3 separate regions of the Homo sapiens genome follow, and regions 2 and 3 are each linked to region 1. Evidence: fine-mapped expression QTL. A gene starts in region 1. Each other region holds a variant in brackets. All regions are shown on one strand. Distances are from middle to middle. Region 1 holds the start of ASGR2 (asialoglycoprotein receptor 2). Region 2 holds the start of CTDNEP1 (CTD nuclear envelope phosphatase 1). Region 3 overlaps LOC105371512 (a long non-coding RNA gene).

Region 1 (8,175 bases):
GATATATGAAAGTTCTGTGTATGTAAATACAGAACAGATAGACATGCAAACCCCATCACATATTTTATAAGGGTACCTACATATTTAGTAATATATATTGTTTCAGCTATCTACCGATGCATAATAAACCACCCCAAAGCTCCAGTGGCTTAAACCAACTGTTTTTTCTTAAGATTCTCTGGGTCAGAAATTTGGGCAGGGCTAGGCTGGGCGGTCCACGGGGTATTGGTTGGAGTGAAACACTTGGATACAATCAGCTGGTGACTGGGCTGCCCTGGAAACTCCCAGAAGACTTTGCTCACATGTCTGGGGCCTCAGTGCACCTCTGTGTGGCCTCTTTCTCTCTCCATGTGCTGTCTTATCCCCCAGGACTCTCTCTGGCAGGATAGTTGGACTTCCTCATAGCATGGTGACTGACTTCCAAGATTGAAAACTGAAGCTACCAGGTTTCTTGAGGTCCAGGCCCAGAACTGGCAGAGTGTCATTTCTAGTGCTTTCTGTTGGTCAAGGCAAGTCACAGGGCCAGCCCAGACTCAAGGGGAGGGGAAACAGACTCTACCCCTGGCTGAGTGGTGTGACTTGCACATGTGGTGAGGGGAGAAATTGATGGGCACCATCTGTGGGGACTGTCAGGGCACTCAGACTTCTGGCTGCCTATAGAGAGTAGAGAGTATAGAATTAGTGAGGGGAAACAGGATGGGAGCTAGGGAAGAACGAAACAGGACAAAGGTTTAGCTCAGACCTCTGAGGAAGACCTAGTGTCATGAAGTAAGGAATATGACCAATCTAACCTTTGTGTCTGAGGTACAAATAAACCCCAAATCAAAATCAACCAAATAAGGCCGGGCGCGATGGCTCACGCCTATAATCCCAGCACTTTGGGAGTTTGAGATGGGCGGATCACCTGAGGTCAGGAGTTCAAGACCAGCCTGGCCAACATGGTGAAAATACAAATAATTAGCCGGGCGTGGTGGTGCATGCCTGTAATCCCAGCTACTCAGGAGGCTGAGGCAGGAGAATCACTTGAACCCGGGAGGTGGAGGTTGCAGTGAGCTGAGATCGCGCCATTGCATTCCAGCCTGGGTGACAAGAGTGAAACTCTGTCTCAAAAAAAAAAAAAAAAAAAATCAATCAAAGAAAATAGGATTCCATAACCCAAAACAGAAAACCTCCAACAATATGGAAACTTCAGAAATAGTCCAAGTACATGTTAACTTCTAAGTTAAAATGATTTTCAAATAGGGAGAAAGAGAAGGACGCAGATGAGTCTGGCTTTCTCTGTCCCTTCTCTCCCTGTAGTGCCGTGAGTGGGGGTGTAAGTGACAAGCCCTGAAACGTGGAATTGGTTCAGTCAAAGGGGTGGCCAATGAGGATGGCCCCATCCCTGGTTGGCAGTTGGCAAAGCTTGACATGCAGTAGACAATCCATCTGTGAAGCTCTTACCTGTATCTCAGGACTAAATCCACATGCCCCTTAAGATGGGGGCTTCACAGCAGTGTTGTTCAGACTTTGAGTTGTGACCCATTAATGGACTGGGAAACTCAACAGAAGGCACGTAGTAAGGTGAGCATTGTCCCATCAAACTTTAGTGTCAACCGTGTATTTCCAAACGCATTATTCTATTCACTCACTCACTCAGTAGATACTTGTTGAGCAGCTACTGTGTGGCAGGCACTGGGGATCCAGGAGAAAGTAACACATACAAATGCACCTGTGTGTGCGGGTGCTTGTGTGTATGTTCTGGATCACAGCATGAAATTCGTCTCTCGCTGTGGGCTGCAGTCAGAGAGCCCAGCGGCTGCTGCTGCCTGGTGGCTGGGTGGGAATGTCAGGGTACTGGGGGGGTGGCTACTTCCCATGTGGGTCAGCAAGTTACAAGAACAGAAAAGGCCTCTGTTTGAATTCCTTTTCGGCACCCGGGGAAACGAGCAGCTTTATAAGAAACCCTGCCCGTAGCCATCCGCCCAAGTTTGGTGAGGGTCAGAAAATCATGCACAAAAACTGTGTTTTCTTTCCCGAGCTATTGTTAGCGCAAGTGTAGACAGTCAGCCACGTTCCTTGCTTCATGGAAGCCAGTCTTCCTCGTAGGACCATGAAGACCTTTTCTTTTCTTTTTCTTTCTTTCTTTTTTTTTTCTTTGAGATGGAGTTTCTCTCTTGTTGCCCAGGCTGGAGTGCAATGGCGCAATCTTGGCTAATGCAACCTCCGCCTCCCAGGTTCAATCGATTCTCCTGCCTCAGCGTCCTGAGTAGCTGGGATTACAGGCCCCTGCCACCACGCCCGGCTAATTTTTGTATTTTAGTAGAGACAGAGTTTCACCATGTTGGCCAGGCTGGTCTCGAACTCCTGACCTCAGGTGATCCACCCACGTCGGCTTCCCAAAATGCTGGGATTACAGGCGTGAGCCACCGTGCCCGGCCAGACCTTTTGTTATGATGTTATTTTCCCCTCTTTACTCCATTTTGCTTTGCCAGTTTCTCTACTCACCTGGGCCACCACCTAGAGCAAGTTGCCTCATCTCTCCGAGGCTCCGCTTCCGAACCCTGTGAAATGGGAGTAACAGAAGTCCTGCCTCGTGGGGGTGTTGTGCTGTGATAAATGAAGAAACACCTTGGAGAATTTAGGGCAGTGGCTGGGCCTGAGGACAGTGTTTGTGTTGCCTGGGCTGGGGCAGGGTCTGGGCCGGACGGGGCTCTCTGAGGTTGGATTCCTCCTGCGAGGAGAGCTGTTTTTCTGCAAAGCCCCTTCCTCCTCCTGCTGAAGCTTCTGGATTTGAGAGGCTTTACTCTCCAGGAGAGTGAAGCGAGTTGGGCCAGAGCTGAGAGTCTGGTGGCCGAGCCCACAGGAAGCTGGGGTCTGTGGTTCAGATGCCGGATTGGGCAAGAGTAGAGAACTGGTCGCTGTGATCCTGGTCAGGGATATTTGGAGACACCCACAGTTCTGGTAAATTCGGAGGCAGGAAGTGAGAGGGGGAGGGAGAGAGGGAAACGGCAAACTGCACCCCAGCCCCTCCTGGCCTGGCACCCCTTCCAAATGGTGCAATGAGTGGGGTGAGTGGCGTGTGGAGTTGAGCGCAGCCCAGGGGACCCCCCTCTCTGGGAATAAGAACAGAGATAGCCCCGTCCCCTGCCCCCACCCCACAAATGAGTTACAGCTCTGTTTCCTCTTCTGTTTACTGTCCAAAGTCCCAGGCCAGGAGGTGCCAGGTTAGAGCTTGGACACTCAGACCCTCCAGTGCAGGCCTTGCCCGGACCAGCCCCTCCTCCACTCTCCTCTCCCCTGTGAGCTCCACCTGCCCCAGTTCTCCTGGCTTTAACCCCTCCTTGGCCAAGGCCAGGGTTGCCTGCGGGAGCCAGGTGTCCGCTCTCCACACCTTTCACAGGTAACTGAGGCTGGGGAGGCAACTGGGACGAGGATGCTTGGGAACAAGGAGGCCTTGGTTCAGGGATGGGGAGGACCCCATGGGAAGCTGTGGGTGGTCGGGTCCATGAGCGTGGGGAGGGGTCTCCTGGCCAGGTCAAGGCCCAAGCGGTCTCCTGAGAAGGGAAAGGACCCAGCGGGATTTCAAACCTCATCCCAAACGCCCTGCCAACCTCAGATCCTACCCAGGCCACCACCCCGAACCCCTCCGACCCTGCGTTCCATCCCACCATCAACCTCCACGTGAATCTGCACCTCTGCCCCAGCCCCAGCCCTCAGAGCAACCTCAGCCCAGCCCAGCCCAGCTCCAGCTCCAGCTCCAGCCCGGGCCCCATCATGGCCAAGGACTTTCAAGATATCCAGCAGCTGAGCTCGGAGGAAAATGACCATCCTTTCCATCAAGGTGAGGGGCCAGGCACTCGCAGGCTGAATCCCAGGAGAGGAAATCCATTTTTGAAAGGCAAGTGTGCAGTTTCTGCGGCTTTGCTCCCCCTCTGTCTCAGCTCATGATTGCTCTGTCCCTTTGAGGTCTCTGCCGCACCCACTCTGTGAACAGGGACTGAGGAGGGCCCGACACCCCCGCTTGTTCCCTCACCTCACCTTCCTGTCTACCCCAGGACCCCAGGAAAGGCATGTGCCAGAGGTGTGGGGAGATCTGGAAGATAACTGCCTGCCCTTCTCCTCCCAACCCAAGAACACATGTGCCTCGTATGTGCGTGTGCACGTATGTGCATATGAGGAATGCAGATTCAGCTGGGACTCTGTGTGTGTGTGTGAGTGAATGTTGTGTGTGTGTATATGTGCGCGAGAGCGTGCATATGTTGTGTGTGTGTATGTCGTGTATGTGAGAGGGTATGTTGTGTGTGAGAGTGTGTTGTGTGTGTATGTTGTGTGAGTATATGTTGTGTGTATCTTGTGTGTGAGTGTATGTTGTGTGTTGTGTGTGTATCTTGTGCATGTGTGTATGTTGTGCGAGTGTATGTTGTGTATGTGAGTGTGTGTATGTTGTGTGTATGTTGTGTGTATGTATGTTGTGTATGAGTGTGTGTATGTTGTGTGTGTGTACGTTGTGTATGTTGTGTGTGTGTTGTGTGTGTGTATTGTGTGAGTGTATGTATGTTTGTGTGTTGTGTGAGTGTTGTGTATGTTGTGCGTGTGTGTATGTTGTGCGAGTGTGTGTGTTGTGTGTGTATGTTGTGAGTGTGTTATGTATGTTGTGTGTGTGAGTGTGTTGCGTGAGTGTGTGTGTTAGTGTGTGTATGTGATTGTATGTGTGTGTGTGTGTGTGTGTAGAGGTGGGGTGAGTTGGGATGGGTGGGGGACGTGAGCACAGAGAGATCCTGGAAGATCCCTGCTCCTCTCATCTCCCAAGACCCTTCCCTGGATCCTTCTGTAATAAATCTTGACTGAAGGACCTAAGTATCTTGGACATTTTTTTTTTAGAGACAGGAGTGTAGTGGCAGGATCATAGCTCACTGCAACCTCGAACTCCTGGGCTCAAGCCATCCTCCCACCTCAGCCTCCCAAGTAGTTAGGACTTACAGGTGTGCACCACTGTGCCTGGCAAATTAAAAAAAATTTTTTAGAGAAATGGGGTCTTGCTATGTTGCCCAGGCTGGTGGGAAAAGATTTTAAGGTGAGAGAGATCTGAGCAGTGCTAGGCAGAAGGGCAAGAGCCAGGAATGGAGGAGTGTCAGGTGTGTGGGTGCTGGTGGTGGAGCCGGGTTCCATGGAGGCAGGAGGAGCAGGGGCTTGGAGCTTAGGAAGGGGATTGGTTAGCTGGGCTGGAATGAGGGACTCCTCATTCCTGAGGCTGGCCAACCGAGGGAGGGCCGGTGCTGGGCAGGGCAGGGCAGGGGACAGGAGGGATAGGAGGTCCCTCCCGAGGACCACTCAGGAACACCAGTAGCATCTCCTCTCTCTGTAGGGGGCTGGCTGGACTTCCCACCAGGCGGTGTCCCCACAGGCAGAGGCCCTGTCCGCCTCACTCTCCTCTGCAACTCCAGTGCCCACACGGCACCCGGTACATAGTGAACACTCAGAGAGAATACGGGATGCTGCTGAATCTTCTGAGGGTGACAGAATTTAGAGTTTGAGCAGGAGGCTTGGAGAGAGGCCAGGATTTCTGAAATTAATGGGAGAGTGAGCTCACGCGAATGGGCTGAGGGACACCAGTGAGGGACCGTCTGAAGGGATGTAGCAAAGTCACCGCATTTCCCTCCAGCAGCCCGGGTGGTGGGGGCTGGGGGAACGTCATCATGGGAGCTGACACTGATCAGCTGCTCACCGGGGCCCATCTTCCACTTGTCTCAGCACTTGATTTTTTTCTGCTACCCCCTTTTTCTTTTAAAGATTTCAATTATGCATGTATTAAGGGTCCCACAGCTCACTCATTCTCTTTCCATTTTTTAATTCTTTTTTCTCCCAGTGTTTCATTTTATAGAGTTATTGCTGTTCATTAAGTTAACTAAAATTTTCCCCTTCCCCTCCCCCTCCCCTCCCCTCCTTTCCTTCCCTCGCTTCCCCTCCCCTCTCTCTCTCTCATCTCACTCTGTTGCCCAGGCTGGAATGCAGTAGCTTGTCACAACTCACTGTGGCCTCCACCTCCTGGGCTCAGGCGATCCTTCCACTTCAGCCTCCCAGGTAGCTGGGACTATAGGCATGTGGCACCACACCTGGCTAATTAAAAATTTTTTTTTGTAGAGACGGTTTTGCCATGTAGAGGGGTTTTGCCATGCTGCCCAGACTAGTCTTGAGCTCCTGGGCTCAAGTGATTCCCCCCGTGTCGACCTCCCAAAGTGCTGGGATTACAGATGTGATCCACAGTGCCTGGCCCTAAATTTTTCTTACGCATTTCTCATCTTCCATTATTTCCATCCAGTGTGTTTTTTCTTTTCTTTCTTTTCTTTTTTTTTTTTTTGGAGGCGGAGTCTCGCTCTGTTGCCCAGGCCGGAGTGCAGTGGCGCGATCTTGGCTCACTGCAAGCTCTGCCTCCCGGGTTCATGCCATTCTCCTGCCTCAGCCTCCCGAGTAGCTGGGACTACAGGCGCCTGCCACCACGTCTGGCTAATTTTTTGTATTTTTAGTAGAGATGGGGTTTCACCATGTTAGCCAGGATGGTGTCGATCTCCTGACCTCATGATCTGCCCGCCTTGGCCTCCCACAGTGCTGGGATTCCAGGCGTGAGCCACGGCGCCTGGCCAGTGTGTTTTTTCATTTCAGACATTGTAGTTTTTATCTCTAGAAGTTCACCTGGGGACTCTTAAATATCCTCCACAATTCTACTTAATTTTTTGAACATAATGGGATATGGCTATAATATCTGTTTTACCATCCTTGCCTGCTAATTCTAGCATCCGTGTCAGTTCTGGATCTCTTTTGATATTTATGAACCTCCTCGTTATGCATTGTGTTTTCCCGTTTCATTGCATGCCTTGTAATCTTTGATTGGCTGCCAGACATTGTCAATTTCACCTTGTTGGGTGCTGGATATTTTTGTATTCCTCTAAATGTTCTTGAGCTTTGCTCCGGGATGCAGTTAAGCAACTTAGAGTCAGTTTGATCGTTTGAACTCTTAATTGTTTTGGTCTCCTCGGACTCTCAGCTCCATCTCCTCAACGTGGGGAGTCTCTTGGGCTCTGCCTGGACTTCCCTTTCCTGGCCTGTAACCTGCAGACTCTCTCCAAACAGTAAGCTGGGGTGATCGGAGGGTTCCTGTTGTTTGCTTCTTATCCCTCAGGGATCTTTACTCCTCCTTGCCTGATGTCCAGAGTCTTGAAAGCTGCCATGTTCTATAGTTGTCTGTTTTTGTTTTGATTGTTTCTGGGGAGAGAAGAACTCTTCCCATCTTGGGCAGACCCTGTCTTTTATGTTCAAACTTTTGCCTAAGAAGCACATTACATATTTTAACTCATCTAATTATCCGAGCAATCCAATCGGGTAGCTACGACTGTGATCTCCATTTTACACACGAGAAAATGGAAGCATGGAGAAATTGAATGCTGGTGCATGATCTCAGAGCTACCTGGAGGCACAGCTGGGCTACCCTGTGGGCAGTCTGGTTTCAGGGTGGATATACAGACACGTTGCTGGGCTGACCCAGCATTGGGAGTTGATAAGTCGGACTGGGAAGCAGGACAGGACCCTCTGAGTGGAGGGTGCTGAAGACAGCAGTCAGGGACTCAGCCATGGAGGGCCAGCTTGGTGGGGAACACCGTGGTCATGGAGCGCTTCTGGATGGAGAGGAATGCAAAGGCCTTGGAGGAAGGGGTGGGGGCAGTGAGAGGGAGGGTGGGGCTGTGCTCAGAGCGGGAGTGGGCAGTGGAGGTGTCAGAGGCCTCCCTGGGTCAAATGGGGTCCTGAGTGTGGCTGCAGTGGGGAAGGTGGAAGTCACTGGTGTGAAAAAGATGAAGAGTTATGGACAGTCACTTACAGGGGCAGTGTCTGACTCAGGACAGTGGCAGGAAGTGACCTGGGGAGGAAGATTCTGGGCCCCTGACTGAGCCTCCCCAGGATGTGGTCCTGCTGGGTCGGGGGGTGATAGGAATGAGAAGACAAGGAAGTCCACAGAGTCAGGGTCCAAGGCCTAGAAGGTGTTCTGTTTGCAGGTGGATGCTGCAAAGAGAGGAGCTCAGGGCTGGGACAACTGGAGCTGCTCTGGGTCTGGAGGCAGCAGAGAGGGAGCCCAGCTCTGTGTGCAGGAAGACGTGGGTGTGTGAGTGTACGTGTGTGGGTGTGTCAGGTGTGTGTGTGTGG
Region 2 (8,175 bases), 140 kb before region 1:
TAGCTAACAGGTTGGGTCTGGATACTTTCTTCCAGGTGACTGTGACTCTCATTCAGGCAACCTGTTAGGCCTCCATGTCATTTTATTGGTCCAAGTCCCTTTCTCTGACCTCCATGTTAGAGCTGAAGCACCATTTGGTACTGGGATAGATACCCTTGTACTGCTCTCCTAATAAAACCGTAAGTTCCTAGCAGCTTGAGGGCAAGGATCTTGTAGTCTTGCGTCATCCGCCCACATACTGGGCACAGAACAGCAAGCGTGTACTAAGCCCTTGTTAACCAGCCTCTGCCACGCCCATATAGCCTTCTGTCCTCCTAGCACCACTGCCTAGGGATAGGGCCACCTCCCAAGGGTCTGGTCTGGCTCAGCCCAGGCCCAGGGTGCTCTGGGGACAACTGGAGCTGTGACCCAAGGGTATAAGGGAGAGAAAAGAGACATAAAGGTCCTCTGCCATTATAGGGGGAATGGGTGGATCAAGAACTTGGACTTGTCTCTGGAGGTGGACTTCAGTCCCTATAAAGTCAGGTTAATCAATAACCTGTTGCCCCAACCTCTCCATGGCCCAGATGCTGGGATCTACTCAGGGATCCACGTACCCAGGTCCCAACCTTACTTTTCAGAACTGAACTGGAAGGGCAGGATCAGGCTATCTCTGGCTTCTCTCTCTTTCTTGGACAGGTGAAGGTTAAAGGTCAAATGAGTTGTGGGATCCACCTGTAGGTACAAAGGATGCTGCCACTCTGCCCCATCCCTAGAATCCCTGACCCCACCCCCAACCTCTGCAGCTTTTATTTTCTCTCCCGTGACCAGATACTAAACTACATTTCCTTGTTCTGGCCTTGGCATTCTTAGATACCGGGGGTATATGAGGATCGGAGTAGGGCTGGGACTCTACAGAGGGCCCCTCTTGGAGATCCAGGCTGAAGTCCGGAAGGATGGAGAACCACTGAGTCTGGAGAGAAAAAAGAAAAGAGTTTTTTTCATCTTACTGAAGAAACTAGACAGACTCCAGGACCTCACATCCTCAGCCCCCAATCACCTATTTAACTGACTGCTTTCAGCTCCTGCCCTCAACTTTTTTTTTTTTTTTTGAGACAGGGTCTGGCTTTGTTGCCCAGGCTGGAGTACAGTGGCGTGATCTTAGCTCACTGCAACCTCCGCCTCCCAGGTTCAAGTGATTCTCCTGCCTCAGCCTCCCGAGTAGCTGGGATTACAGGCACGTGCTACCACACCCAGCTAATTTTTGTCTTTTTAGTAGAGATGGGGTTTTGCTATATTGGCCAGGCTGGTCTCAAACCACTAACCTCAGGTGATCTGCCCACTTCGGCCTCCCAAAATGCTGGGATTACAGGTGTAAGCCACTGCGCCCAGCCTCTATTTTATTTTCAAAAGTGAAAGCAAGTTGATTAAGGAAGTAAAGGAATAAAAGGATGGCGACTCCTTAGGCAGAGCAGCCCACTTACTCCTTTTTTGAGACGGAGTCTCACTCTGTTGCCCAGGCTGGAGTGTAGTGGCATGATCTCGGCTCACCTCAACCTCCGCCTCCCAGGTTCAAGTGATTCTCCCACCTCAGCCTCCCGAATAGCTGGGACTACAGGCACCCACCACTATGCCCAGCTAATTTTTGTATTTTTAGTAGAGATGAGATTTCACCATGTTAGCCAGGCCGGTCTCGAACTCCTGACCTCACAATCTGCCCACCTCGGCCCCCCAAAGTGCTGGGATTATGGGCCTGAGCCACCTCGCCTGGGCCCCACTTACACTTTATAACCTTGGTAAGTGACTTAAATTTAAACCTCCTTGGGCCGGGTGCAGTGGATCACACCTGTAATCCCAGCACTTTGGGAGACCAAGGCCAGAGGATGGCTTGAGCCTAGTTATTCAAGACCAGCCTGGGCAACAGGGTGAGATCTCATCTGTATAAAAAACTAAAAAGCTGGCTGGATGTGGTGCTACATGCCTGTGCTCCCACCTCCAGCTACACCAGAGGCTGAGGCAGGAGGATCACTTGAACATGGGAGGTCAAAGCTGCCGTAAGTTATGATTGCACCACAGCACTCCAGCCTGGGCAACAGTGAGACCTTGTCCAATAAAAAAAAAAAAAAAAACTCCAAGGGAATAAAACCCTCCCTGGACTGGCTTTCCAGCCTGAAAAATGGTGATAATAAAACAATCTACCTTAACCATAGCTGAGAGGATTAAATGAAGTGAGTGATAGAAAACAGAGAAATACCTAAATCAGCTTTTTTTAAAAAAAGGTCTCACTGAGGGCTGGGCACAGTGGCTCACGTCTGTAATCCTAGCACTTTGGGAGGCTGAGGTGGAAGGATCACTTGAGCCCAGAAGTTTGAGACCACCCTGACCAACACAGTGAAACCCCATCTCTAAAAAAGTTTGTTTTTAAAGTCTCCTTGAAACATCAGCATTTTCATTGTTCTTCCCATCGTGCCACCCCTTTCTCTGTCCCCCGTTTCCAGTCCTTCTCTGTTGGTTCTTCTGACCTGGTCAGTTGGGCGCTGTCGGGGCCTCCGACACAGGATGTGGGCCGAGGCCTGGCCCATGGTACCGCCCAGGGTCACCTCAGTCTGAGCAAGGCTGCTGAGAGCTCCCACAGGGCCTGGTCCATGAAGCTCTTCATGTAGCAAGCCCAGCACACTCACTTTCCCCACTGAGGAGCTGTCACCTAGAGGAGGACAAGAAATGTAGGATAGTAGGGAGCATTCAGGTTGGTGGCCTGGGAGCTAACAGTGAAGAAGAGAGAGCCTCACAATTCCATCACAGTGCTGCCAAAATCCTGACGTCCCTTGGCCAATCTCACTACCGTGCTCTGAGCCTCCTCCAGCCCACACCTTAATCTCCTCTATCATCCCAATGTAAAGCTGATCAAGGCACCGCTCTAACTTCTATTCTTCAGCAGCTCCTGCCTTCAGGATGGAACGAACGCTTCCAGCAGGTGGTGTCCACTTACTTTCCAGCCTCATCTCTTACACACGGAAGTACTTGTAGTTTCTGGAACTTCCCAAGATCTCAGTCAGTGCCTTCAATTCTCTGCCTCCCTTTTTGGGAGCATTTAGAGAGTGTCAGGTACTATGCTAAACGCTTTAACACAATGTTTGAATCCTTACAAAGGTCAGC[G/A]TTTTTAGGTCAAACTGTATGAAATCACTGACATTTAACAATTTTTTTTTCTTTTCTTTTTCGAGATGGAGTCTTGCTCTGTCGCCCAGGCTAGAGTGCAGTGGCGCAATCTTGGCTTACTGCAACCCCTGCTACGGGCTCAACAATACTGCCTCAGTCTCCTGAGTAGCTGGGACTACAGGCGCGTGCCACCACGCCTGGCTAATTTTTGTATTTGGTAGAGACGGGGTTTCAGCATCTTGGCCAGGCTGGTCTTGAACTCCTGACCTCGTGATCTACCTGTCTTGGCCTCCCAAAATGCTGGGATTACAGGCATGAGCCTCTGCGCCCGGACTGTTTTTATTTTTTTGAGATGACGTCTTTCTCTGTCACCCAGGCTGCAGTACGGTGGCGTGATCTCAGCTCACTGCAACCTCTGCCTCCTGGGTTCAAGTGATTCTCCTGCCTCAGCCTCCCGAGTAGCTGGGATTACAGGCGTGCACCACCACACCCAGCTAATTTTTTGTATTTTTAGTAGAGACAGGGTTTCACCATGTTGGCCAGGCTGGTCTCCAACTCCAGGTGATCCGCCCGCCTTGGCCTCCCCAAGTGCTGGGATTACAGGCATGAGCCACTGCGCCCAGACAATATTTAACAACTTTTAACCTAAGAAATGGCAATATAGTGGTTCATCCTAATACTTCCCTTGTACCTTCCCCCATATACAGGGGAAAGTGAAGCAATGAGAGATCAAGCACCTTAATACAAAGCTGGGCGTCTGACTCCTAAGTCCATTCGAGTACCCACAGTGCACTTCAAGGCTAGTCTCAGTGCCCCTGCCCGGCCAAATTTGCCTGGATGACCTCTTGCTCTTCAAGAGAGTGCCTTTTTTTTTTTTTGAGATGGAGTCTTGCTCTGTCGCCCAGGCTGGAGTGCAGTGGCCCATCTCAGCTCACTGCAAGCTCCACCTCCCGGGTTCACGCCATTCTCCTGCCTCAGCCTCCCGGGTAGCTGGGACTAGAGGTGCCCGCCACCAAGCCCGGCTAATTTTTTTTTGTATTTTTAGTAGAGACGGGGTTTCACCATGTTAGCCAGGATGGTCTCGATCTCCTGACCTTGTGATCTACCCACCTCGGCCTCCCAAAGTGCTAGGATTACAGGAGTGAGCCACCGCGCCCGGCCAAGAGTGCCCTTCTTTAAGGTGCCCTGTGCATGCCTGTATCATCATGGCCTTTATCAGACCATCTTGTAACTGCCTGTTTACTTATCTCCATCTTTTATGGGACTTCGAGCTCCTGGAAGGCAAGGACCCAGCTACAGTCAGTCTGTATTTTGCCATTATCTAGAATTGTACCTGACACATTGTATATATTTACTATTGATTTGTTAAATGAATGAATGAGTGAAACAAATGAGTAAAAAAATAACTTGGAGAAAAAAAAGCAAATGGTAGATGGCATTAAGGAGAAGTAAAAAAAAAAAAAAACAGACAAAAAAGTCAAAAAAATGAAAAAAGGTCTGACTGGAGAACCCAGATGTTTATTCTAGGGTAGAAAGGAAAAGGGGCACACTCCTTGGCAGAGGGAGATGTATGAGGGGAAACAATGAAGGAGGGGTCTCACCAGGACAAGAGTCCTGATGGCTCACAGCATGCAGGACCTGGCAGAGTGTGGTGCAGGGAAGGCGAAGTAGCAGCCAGCTGAGTGAATCGAGAGCAATGGTGACAGGAACAGGATCTGTCCTCTTGCACATGGCTCTCAAGGCTCCCAGCGGCCCCCCAGGAAAGGCCTCCTCAGTTTTTGACCAGTTGAGAGGGTCTCTGAAGAAGTCATGGTAAACCAGCCTGCAAAGGGAAAATAAGACACAATATAATATTGCCCCTTCCCCCGAGAGGATCACAAAGTTCATCCTCTGATCTTTATGGCTGTTTTCTCAATTTTTATGAATATCCTAAATATTAGTGAAAGATAATTACTGAGAGAGAGCATACAGTGATTGAGAGCACAGACTTTGGTGTCTGACAGCCTGATCTCCAAGCTTGGCTTTGCTACTTGCCCAAGGTCAGCTAACTGATACATTATTTCTAAGAGTTGCCTCATTGGTGAAATGAGATGCCAACCTCTAAGCATTCAGCACAGTGCTTGACACATAGTATATGCCTGATAAATGTTAGTTATCACCATTATCAAATATTTCCTGTGTGTGGCACCTAAAGATTATCACCCTGGGTGAAAAAAGAGAAAGCAGAGGACGTGAGATTTGGTCCTGCCTGTAGAACAGCTTAAAGAAAGTCAAGAATTAAGTCAAGAAGTAACAACTACAGAAAAAACAGCTCAGGAAAGGGAGACTGGCATAGGTAGCAGAACTTTTTTTCCCAGATATCTCTTTTCTATCTTCTCTTGTGGAGTGCCCGCTTTTTTTTTTTTTTTTGAGACAGAGTTTCGCTCGTTGCCCAGGCTGGAGTGCAATGGCGTGATCTCCGCTCACTGCAACCTCTGCCTCCTGGGTTCAAGCGATTCTCCTGCCTCAGCCTCCTGAGTAGCTGGAATTACAGGCATGTGCCACCATGCCCAGGTAATTTTTTGTATTTTTAGTAGAGATGGGGTTTCTCCATGTTGGTCAGGCTGGTCTCGAACTCCAGACCTCAGGTGATCCACCCGCCTCAGCCTCCCAAAGTGCTGGGATTACAGGCGTGAGCCACCGCGCCCAGCCATGGAATGCCATCTGAACATACACCACCGCCTCTATCACAACAATGGCTGATGCAAAATTGGAGGCTCAACAGATAAGATGTAAACTACTATTATCATCCACTGAGTTGCCGGGACTAGGAAGTAGAAAGCATCCTACTAATGGTTCTTAATGTCTCCTGATCAGGCATGCCGCTGGGTTTAGGAACTTCCTTATCTCAATACTTTCTTCTCCCCCATATTAGTCAATAAATCCTGGAAATTCTACCCACTAAAGTCCTTTACATGTGTTCTAAACTTTCCATCTCTACTGCCACTGCCTTAAACCAGGCCTCTATCACTTCCTACCATTATTCCCTAAAATTCATTAGGTCAGGAACAGGTCTCACTCACTGCCGTCTCCAGTATCTTGCACAGCACCTGGTTGATAGTTGGTGCTCGGTACATATGTACCTTAAAGAGTGAAGCCGGATTAACGGATTACTGCAATACCCTTCCCACATGTTCTCCCTATTTCCAGGCTATTTCTCTCTCGACTTCTATGATCTTTGCTTTGGACTCCCCAAATACTCATCACTCCTCTTATTAATTCTTGCCTCCTGAAAGATCCATATCCAATTCTTCAATGAATATTTAAGGAACTGCTACTACATACCAGGTTCTGCGCTTGTTGTAAAGAAATTTCCTTAGCATTATAGGTCTCAAATTTAATCAAATCTCTTCCAACTGGTACTTACCGATTGTTGATATCAGAGTCAAAACCTTCACGAAACTCTTCCTCGCTCACTTCACAGCCCAGGATATGCACTTGCTCCCCACTAAGGCAGAGATGAGAAGGGATTGTCAAAGAGTGGGCACAGGTGCCCTATCCAGGGTAGGCCGGGGAGACACTGTGGGATACTCACCACAGTGCAGATTTCTTGACAAGCGCCTTCAAGAGACTGCGCCCCTCCCACTCCACGGAATCTGCAGAGCGAGGGACGGATAAAGGGTATGAGAGCGCTGGGATTACCGCCTTCGCGAACCCGTCGCGATTTCCACACCTAGCCTGTGACCCCTGGCCCTTCCTGCCCACTTCCGTCCCCTCAGCCAGGCCCGAACCGCACCCCCCGCCCCGCCACCGTGCCTCTGGCTCTCACCCCGAAGCAGCACCAGGCCGCCCAAGGCCAACAGCGAGTCCAACATCTCCAACTCGCGTCCGGTCCCTGCTCTGGCGCCCTCTGATGGCGTCATGACCCAGTGTCCTTCCTCCTCGGGGTGAAACGGGCCGAGCACTCGGGCGTCCTCCCACCATTAAGACCTAACATAGTCTGGAATGAGAGGTGATTATGTTCAATATTCCCAGGGGGGCGCTCACGCGGAGGGCGCCCCTCCCCGAGCCCTGGCGCACAGTCGTACGGACAACGACCCCGTCTACATTTTCACTGTGACCGGGGCGGGAAGAGCAGTTGGGGCAGTTGTCAGTGGGAGGGGGAGGAGGACCCACAAGCCCCCCGCGAGGGCCCTAAGCGCGGGCCAAGTGACGTCACTCTCCCCGCCCACGCAGTTTGAGGCGGGGCCTGCTTCGCCTCAGGCCCCGCCCCGCGGCCACCTTCTGCGCGTGCGCAATACTGCAGCCTCGCTTGGAGTGCTTTTGGCTTTCCTTATACCTACCCGCCATAGACCGCGCAGGAGGAACTTAGTCCCGGTGAAGCGAATACACGTCACCACCGGAAGTAGTGTCAAAGGGGAAGAGGAGGGGGAAAGACAGGAAGAGGGAGTCCTTTGGACGGTAAAATGGCGCCTGTCAGAGTGGGAAACCCAGCTGCAGAGGCTGCAGCCCCGGTCCCCAGCGGCTAAAGGACCCCCGAGCTCGGGGAGGGGGAGGCCGCTCCGGCCCAGCGCTCTGCGCCCTCCGGCTCCCCCTCCCCCTCCTTCCCTGCTCCTTCGCTCTGCAGGCCCGTTCTCCGCTGCCGCGGCCCTTTGCGCGCCGCTGCCCCCGCCCTCCCCGTTCCTGCGAGCAGCCCCCTAGCGCGCCTGCGCAGCGGGCCACTCTCTGCTTTCCCCCCCTCCCCTTCCCTTTTCCCTTCCTCCCTTTTCCCTAGCCCCCTCCCCCACTGCCCCCTCCCCCAATTATCCTTCCCCTTCCCTCCAGGTCTCGGAGGACCCCATCCTAGCCCTACCTGTCTCGGCCCGCAACCTCCCCGAAGCCGTCGGTGCCACTCCCAGCCCATGTGGGCCCCCGCGGGCTGCCCACGCCTGTCCCCCAGCTCCCCGTTCCGCTGGGCTTTACCCTCGCCAGGGGTGGCTTTCTGAGCCGCCCGCTCCGTGCCCCTCTCTGCAGCCTCTCCTGCCACTCGGGGCCCCCGTTCCCCCTCCCGGCGGCGGGGGG
Region 3 (8,175 bases), 25 kb before region 1:
TCTTTGTAATCTCCCACAACCTTAAGAAGGTTCTTTGTAATCTCCCACAACCTTAAGAAGGTTCTTTGTAATTCTCCCCACCCATGTATACTTTGTGAGATCCACTCCCTGCCTGCAAAACATTGCTCCTAACTCCACCGCCTATCCCAACACCTGTAAGAGCTAGTGATAATCCCACCACTCTTTGCTGACTCTCTTTTCGGACTCAGCCCGCCTGCACGCAGGTGAAATAAATAGCCTTGTTGCTCACACAAAGCCTGTTCGGTGGGCTCTTCACTCGGACGCACGTGACACGGCCCAGAGTTTTACTATTTCTCAAATCAGTCTCCCAGCATTCAGAGATCAGAGTTTTTAAAGATAATTTGGCGGATAGGGGCTTGGGAAGTGAGGAGCGCTGACTGGTCAGGTTGGAGACGGAATCATAGGAGATCAAAGTGAGATTTTCTTGCTGTCTTCTGTTCCTGGGTGCGGTGGCAGAACTGGTTAGGTCAGATTATGAGTCTGGGTGGTGTCAGCTGATCTATCGAGTGCAGGGTCTGAAAAGTATCTCAAGTACTGATCTTAGGTTTTACAATAGTGATGTTATTCCCAGGAGCAATGTGGGGAAGTTCCGACTCTTAGAGTCAGAGTCTGCATGACCCCTAAACTACAATTTCTGATCTCGTAGCTAATCTGTTAGTCTTGCAAAGGCAGACTGGTCCCCAGGCAAGAAGAGTCTTTTCGGTTAAGGGCTATTATCAATTTTGTTTCAGAGTCAAACCACGAGCTGAATTCCTCCCCGAAGTTTGTTCAGCCCACGCCGAGGAATGGACAAGGACAGCTTAAAGGTTAGACGCAAGATGGAGTCGGTTAGGTCTGATTTCTTTCACTGTCATAATTTCCTCAGTTATAATTTTTGCAAAGGAGGTTCCATTGCCTCCCCAGTGACTGTGGATCTCGTCACACCTGCCATTGTAATCGGTCCTGATAGCTTCCGCCACCTTAGCCAGAGCTGCTTTGTCTTCCCAGTGAGCCTGTGTGAAGGTGACAGTCTTTTCTGGGGTCTTCCTGCAGACCAGGCATCTCCGTCCTGCCTTCCCCTGGATAACGCAGTAAGGGAACCCCACTGTAGGACACAGCGCAGACAGAGAGACAGCAAGCTCGACGAGAGTCACGTGCAGTCACCACCAGCTGAGGCTTCTTGTTCTCCACCAAGGTGCTGTCGGGGTTAACCCTGCTCGTGGGACAGTTGGGGTCTTCATGGAGATGCCCCCTTTGCCGGCAGCTTTCTTCTCTGCACGGGCCAATAGCCTCTGCTTCTTTTCTTGCCCTGTCTCTGGTCTGTACCATGGTCCAGCTGATGCAGTTGAGGAGCTGTTTTCTCGGTCCAAGGCCTGGATGAGTCGGTCACTTGCAGGAGGCACTTTCAGCTGCTCGTGGAGGTCAGCCGTTTGCCACTGCAACCAGATGTAGTTGGGCCATTCAACAATCAACAAAGCAGGTGAGGTCCCTTTTGGGCTGGATAGCCTGTTCAATGCCAGATTCTTAAGCCTTTTCTCAAATGCCGAAATTCTTTTTTTTTTTTTTTTTTTTTTGAGACGGAGTCTCACTCTGTTGCCCAGGCTGGAGTGCGGTGGCGCGATCTTGGCTCACTTCAACCTCTGCCTGCTGGGTTCAAGCAATGAGCAATGAGCCACTGTGCCCGGCCTCGACTGCCTTCTTATTTCTGCGATTGCCACCAGATGCTGCTGCTGCAAACAAGTCCCGCTCAGCCAGAGGCCACCCCTGCCGTGGCTGCGCTGTAGTCACCGTGGATCTGGCTATAGTTTGATGCAGTAATACGGGAGCTAAAAAGAAATTACTTAGGCAGTTGGTGAGGGTAAGAGAGTCCTCGGTAAGGCATCCCTTTTAACAAAAAGCAGCCCCCACATCATTTCTTTTCTAACAAAGAGCAGCCTGTAAAATCGAGCTGCAGACATTGACAGGCAAGCTGGAAGCTTGAACGGGTGAATGGCGGCAGCCGTGCCAATCGGAAAAGGCTACCTGGGGCCAGGCATGTTCAACATGGAGGCTTCATCTTCCCTTTTCCTTATCAACCACCTGTACAGTAAAGGAAGCAGCAACATGATGCCAACCAGGTAGAGAATCCATTTGCATAATAAAAGATTAGGGTGGGGCGGCCAGCTTCTTCTTGCACTATGTAAATGGCATACCTGGTCCCGCAATCTTTTGGGCTCTGTGTAAATCAGACACTGCCTGGCCGGGTGGGTGCGGCGGCTCTCGCCTATAATCCCAGCACTTTGGGAGGCTGAGCCGGGTGGATCACCTGATGTCAGGAGTTTGAGACCAGCCTGACCAACATGGTGAAACCCCGTCTCTACTAAAAATACAAAAATTAGCCGGGCGTGGTGTGCATGCCTGTAATTCCAGCTACTCGGGAGGCTGAGGCAGGAGAATCCCTTGAACCTGGGAGGCAGAGGTTGCGGTGAGCCGAGATCGTGCCACTGCACTCCAGCCTGGGCAACAAGAGCGAAACTCTGTCTCAAAAACAAAACAAAACAAAACAAGGCAAAACCTCCAAATCAGACACTGCCTCCTCAAGCTCACCTATAACACCCAGTGCATTTCACCTCGGAGCCAGAAGACCGACTTGGGAGCCCCTCCCTCTCTGCAGGAGAGAGAGCTTTTCTTTCTCTTGCCTATTAAACCTCTGCTCTTAAACTCACTCGTCGTGTGTGCCTGCATCCTCAATTTCCTTGGCATGAGACGATGAACCTTGGGTATTACCTCAGACAACGAGCTTCAAAAGCTTAATGGAACAGACCGTCTACCCCTGTTGTGCCCTGCTTAGCTCTGTCCCGGAAGCCACTAGGCACCTAGGCTGTGACAGTTTCAGTCTTTAACCCCCAATGACAGCTTGCTCAGGGCACACCCAGTCCCTCCTTAGTGCTGCTGAGCAACTGCACCGTGTCCTCGGGCTCCAGAGGAAAAAACACTTCAGTTCATAGCCCTGCTCAGCAGAGGTCCTCAAAGCACATCTTCTCAGCCTCTATCTGGTGAGGGGGCACCTTCAGCCTGTGCCAAACGCGGCTTCCCTCACAAACCCTACCAGGCCTTAGCACTGATACAGGATTCTAGGGACTGAATGTTTCTGTCCTCCCCACCCCGGATTCATAGGTGGAAGCCCTACTCCACAGTGTGATGATATTTGGAGGTGGGGCCTTTGGGAGATAATTACATTTAGATGAGGTTGTGAGGGTGGGGTCCCCACGATAGGATTTGTGCCCTTGTTGGAAGAGAAGGAGGCCAGAGTGTGCTCTCTCATCCACGTGAGGACACAGCAAGAAGGTGGCTGTCTGTAAACCAGGAAGTGAGCCCTCCCCAGACACTGGATCTGCCGGTACCTTCACCTTGGGCTTCCTAGCCTCCAGAACTGTGAGAAAGAAATGTTTTTTTTTTGTTTAAGCCATTCAGTCCGTGGTGTTTTGCAATGGCAGTGCAAGCTGACTAAGACACAGGGTCACTTGTTCTATTTCCTCTTCAGTCATGATGGGCTTCCCTCGGGCCCTTTGGTGCCTTTCCCCGTCAGTGGACTTCAGCTAGAGCCTCTGTTCATCACAGAGGTTCTAAGGACATTAGATCTCCAAAAGAAAGGGACTAGGGTCTCAAATTTCTTTGCTTCACAGAAGCTTTTTGGCCCCACCTTTCAGTGACCTGTCTGCAAACCAAAACTGGCAAAGAAGGGCAGTCTCCCCTGAGCCACTGGAGAAGTCCTGCCTCCCCTGCCTGGGGTAGGCGACGGCTGGCTTCCCACTTAAACAGTTAAGGGGAGCTGCTCAGTGCTTACAAAGTCATTTGCTAACTTGCCTAGACAAAGAAGTTATTAGTAACTTTTACATGTCAGCTTGGGTAAACAAAACAAGTTTAAGTTCCTGTAATCAGGCAGCATGTTTTTATTATTATTATTATTATTTTATTATTTGAGATGAAGTATTGCTCTGTCGCCCAGGCTGGAGTGCAGCGGTGCAATCTCGGCTCACCACAAGCTCCGCCTCTCAGGTGCACACCATTCTCCTGTCTCGGCCTCCGGAGTAGCTGGGACTACCGGCGTCCGCCACCACGCCCGGCTAATTTTTTTGTATTTTTAGTAGAGACGGGGTGTTTCACCGTGTTAGCCTGGATGGTCTCCATCTGCTGACTTCGTGATC[T/C]GCCCACCTCAGCCTCCCAAAGTGCTGGGATTACAGGCGTGAGCCACCGCGCCTGGCCACCATGTTTTATTATTAAAAGTTAATGGGGGCCGGGCATGGTGGCTCACGCCTGTAATCCCAGCACTTTGGGAGGTCGAAGCGGGCGCATCACCTGAGGTCAGGAGTTCGAGACCAGCCTGGCCAACGTGGTGAAACTCTGTCTCTACTAAAAACACCAAAATTAGCCGGGCATGGTGGTGGGTGCCTGTGGTCCCAGCTACTTGGAAGGCTGAGGGGGAAGAACTGCTTGCACTTGGAAAGCAGAGATTACAGTGAGCCAACATCGCGCCATTGCACTCCAGCCTGGGCGACAGAGTGAAACTCCATCTCAAAAACAAAACAAAAAAAGTTAATGGGAAGAAAAGCTATAGCCAGCAAAGGTCACAGGCAGGCTGGGTGGCTATGAGACCCCTCAGAGAGGCTGGGGCTGGGAAGGGGTGTAGGGAGGGTAGATTACATTCAGACTGACTCATGCTTACCTCAGGCTGTGAGATCCCAGCCCTCTGGGCAGATCCTGAGTCTGGAGCAGGCTTGGCTTATACCAGGTGGGGCTGGGAGACCCCTCCAGCAGGTCCCTGGAGGCCATGGCAGATGTAGCTGGGCCCAGAGCATTACATGCCATGAATGGGAGGAGAGCCGCCGTTCTGTTTGATTTTCTCTCAGCTCTCCTGTCCTTCTCAGCAAAATTAGTTTGAGCCTCTGCCTCAAAACTTGCAAAGTGAGGCTCTGAAACCCCGTCAGTGAAGATATGCTCGCATTTGGTCTTTAAGGAAATAGCTCTGAGGGACTCTCGAGGCAGTCTGTGAAGGAGGCAGGCTGCCAAGACACCGTAGGGTGATGCTGGGGGAAGAATCATCACTGGTAACCCCGATTGCAGGGAGCGGTGGTTGGCGGAATCCCCTGGCGGGAGGCGCTGTCTTCCCAGAGCAGGAGTACAGTGTCCTCTGGGTGGAGAGAACTCAGCAAGGCTGAGGGTGGGGTTGCTCAGCCTGTGCAGATTCCCTTACTTACTTGTCCCGTCTCCCCACTTCCTAATTTTACTATAAAAGAGGGAAGGAACACGAAAGTCTGTTAGGGCAGAGAGGCTGTGGATTGCATTTAGTGTATCAAGAGTAAAACTCAAGAAGCTCTTTTTCAAATAATCTTTTAAATTTGGGGCTTATAAATGCAATCGTCCTGGTTTCTGAACTCCATGTAATAGATCTGGGGATGAAACAGAAGCTATCACGGTCTCAGGCCAAGCTGCCTCAACACCTTTAGGGGCTTCGCAAGCCTTTTTCGACTCTAAGATGTGAACCAGAAAGTGTTTTTGTGATTCAGGCTAGGATGTCTTACCAGTTGGCAAAAGAAAGATAATAAGTAAGTGTAGCCAAATAGTTCTCAGGAGCTGAATAATTGAATACTCTTAGCTATGTAAGAATGATCTCTTTACTGTTTAATGTTTCACTTCAGCTACTTAGAAGTATAATGCAGATTGATTGACCTCAAGTGATCTTCCTGCCTCAGCCTCCCGAGTCGTTGGGAGTACAGGCGTGCAACACCAGTCCTGGCTAATTTTTAAATTTTTTGTAGAGACAGGGTCTTGCTATGTTGTCCAGGCTATGAAGGTAATTTTATATATTATCTTAAATGATTTTGTGCATGAAACAGTTTCGATGGCATTTTGACTGAAACCTGTCACATGAGGTCAGGTGTGACATTTTCCACTTGTGGCTCAGAAAATTTTGGATTTTGGTGCCTTTCGGATTTTGGATTTTGGGATTAGGGTCGCTCAACCTGTATTAAAAAATAGTTGGGGTGCAGGGGAGTCTCTCTTCTTTCAGACTGGCACCTGCAGCTGTGACCACACGGTGGCGCTGCTATCCTGATGTTGGGAACATAAGAGAAAAAAGAAAAAAACCCAACTTCCTAAGGGCGAAAGAGTAAACTAGAAATATGAAATGAGGTTTAATACTGATTGCAGTAATTTTTAAAACTTTGCCTTTTACATAAAAAATTGTGGTAAAATACACACCACATAAAATTTAACCGTTTTTAAGTATGCGTTTCTGTTGCACGCGGCACATTCATTGCTGTGCAACCATCCATGGAACTCTTTTCATCTTTTTTTTTTTTTTTTTGGAGAGAGAATCTCGCTTTGTCGCCAGGCTGGAGTGCAGTGGTGTGATCTCGGCTCACTGCAACCTCCGCTTCCTGGGTTCAAGCGATTCTCCTGCCTCAGCCTCCTGAGTAGCTGGGACTACAGGCGCCCGCCACCACGCCCAGCTAATTTTTGTATTTTTAGTAGAGACGTGGTTTCACCATGTTGGCCAGGAAGGATGGTCTGGATTTCTTGATCTCGTGATCCGCCCTCCTCGGCCTCCCAAAGTGCTGGGATTACCGGCGTGAGCCACCGCGCCCGGCCAGAACTCTTTTCATCTTGTGAAACTGAGACTCTAAATCCATGGAACAGCAACTCCCCATTCCCCGCCCACCAACCCCTCCCCCTGGCGACCACACCATTCTACTTTTTGTCTCTATGAATCTGACTACCTTAGGTAGTGGGATTATGCAATATTTGTCCCTGTGTGACTGGGTTATTTCACTCAGCATAATGTCTTCAAGGTTTATCCATGGTGTAGCATGTGTCAGAATTTCTTTATTTTTAGTTTTTGAGATGAGCCTGGCTCTGTCGCCCAGGCTGGAATGCAGTGCCTCAATCATGGCTCACTGCAGCCTTGAACTCCTGGGCTCAAAAGATCCGCGTCTCGCTCTTGTTGCCCTGGCTGGAGCGCAATGGCGCAATCTCGGCTCACTGCAACCTCCACCTCCCGGGTTCAAGCGATTCTCCTGCCTCAGCCTTCTGAGTAGCTGGAATTACAGGCGCCCGCCACCGTGCCCGGCTAATTTTTTTTTTTTGTATTTTTAGTGGAGATGGGGTTTCGCCATGTTGGCCAGGCTGATCTCGAACTCTTGACCTCAGGCGATCCACCCACCTCAACCTCCCAAAGTGCTGGGATTACAGGCGTGAGCCACGGCACCCGGCCCAGCTTTATTTATTTTTATAAATTTATGGGAAACAAGTGTAATTTTGTGACATGCATAGATTGTGGAGTGGTGAACTCAGGGCTTTTAGAATCTCCATCACCCAAACAAATGTACCTTGTACCCATTCGGTAACTCCTCATCATCCAGGAATATTTAATTTGAAATTAATTTTATATGAAAACAAACAAACATATTAGATCCTATATACTTGTGGCAAGTGGCTCTCCTGGAGTTTGCTGTCTTTTGACAGGCAGGTGTGTAGGTGGAAACTCTGGAGGGTGAGGTTCTGGACTGAGGCTCTTCCAGGGGTGGCTGAGGCACCATTTCTCCAGAAAACCCTCCCTGGACACCTTATTTCTGGGGTCCCACTCACTCCATGCTTGTGAACCTGTATATTTTCCTCTTATTTATTTATTTATGTTTTGAGATGGAGTTTCGCTCTTGTTGCCCAGGCTGGAGTGCAATGGTGTCATCTCGGCTCACCGCTAACTCAGCCTCCCGGGTTCAAGCCATTCTCCTGCCTCAGTCTCCAGAGTAGCTGGGACTACAGGTGTGCGCCACCATGCCCGATTAACTTTTTTGTATTTTTAGTAGAGACGGGGTTTCACCATGTTGGCCACGCTGGTCTCGATCTCCTGACCTCGCCATCTGCCCGCCTCAGCCTCCCAAGGTGCTGGGATTACAAGCATGAGCCACCGTGCCCAGCCTTATTTTCCTCCTAACTGTGCTGTTCCTGAAGGCAGGGTCCCTTCATTTCTGTGCTTCTGGCACAGGGAAGAGCTGCCACGCTATGGGCATATGGTGCCCCCCCACCCCCACCCCCCAGGACCCTCTGGTTGTGCTTGGCTTCAAAGAACCTTGTGATCTTGTCGAGAAGACAGAAAACCATTTGGTTCTGATACAGGAGTCGGGCAGGGAAGTG

The links. PIP is the estimated chance that this variant, and not a neighbour inherited with it, causes the effect.
Region 2: its variant is fine-mapped to the expression of ASGR2 in whole blood (TOPMed, PIP above 0.99).
Region 3: its variant is fine-mapped to the expression of ASGR2 in whole blood (INTERVAL, PIP above 0.99).

The regions. Positions count from the first base shown.
Region 1 is chr17:7,109,822-7,117,996 of GRCh38, reverse strand. It overlaps ASGR2 (asialoglycoprotein receptor 2), which reads left to right and starts at 3,175. Exons shown (of 9, transcript NM_001201352.2): 1 at 3,175-3,382; 2 at 3,687-3,880. The coding sequence starts at 3,757. RefSeq lists enhancers at 2,237-3,023, 4,829-5,329.
Region 2 is chr17:7,251,365-7,259,539 of GRCh38, reverse strand. CTDNEP1 (CTD nuclear envelope phosphatase 1) reads left to right here and starts at 7,806. Exons shown (of 8, transcript NM_001143775.2): 1 at 7,806-8,175. It overlaps ELP5 (elongator acetyltransferase complex subunit 5), which reads right to left and starts at 7,325. Exons shown (of 8, transcript NM_203414.3): 1 at 6,944-7,325; 2 at 6,710-6,770; 3 at 6,542-6,622; 4 at 4,737-4,957; 5 at 2,502-2,683; 6 at 857-952; 7 at 614-714. The coding sequence starts at 6,989. RefSeq lists silencers at 6,669-6,908, 7,679-7,888, 7,959-8,078 and enhancers at 6,939-7,158, 7,027-7,615, 7,616-8,175. The variant G/A (reference allele first, on the strand shown) is at 3,136.
Region 3 is chr17:7,134,329-7,142,503 of GRCh38, reverse strand. It overlaps LOC105371512 (a long non-coding RNA gene), which reads right to left. Exons shown (of 3, transcript XR_934191.3): 2 at 4,706-5,266; 3 at 1,741-1,826. It overlaps LOC124903910 (a long non-coding RNA gene), which reads left to right. Exons shown (of 2, transcript XR_007065600.1): 1 at 1-29; 2 at 61-255. It also overlaps the pseudogene RPL7AP64. Among named protein-coding and RNA genes, the nearest start is that of ASGR2, 24 kb to the right of the region's middle. The variant T/C (reference allele first, on the strand shown) is at 4,188.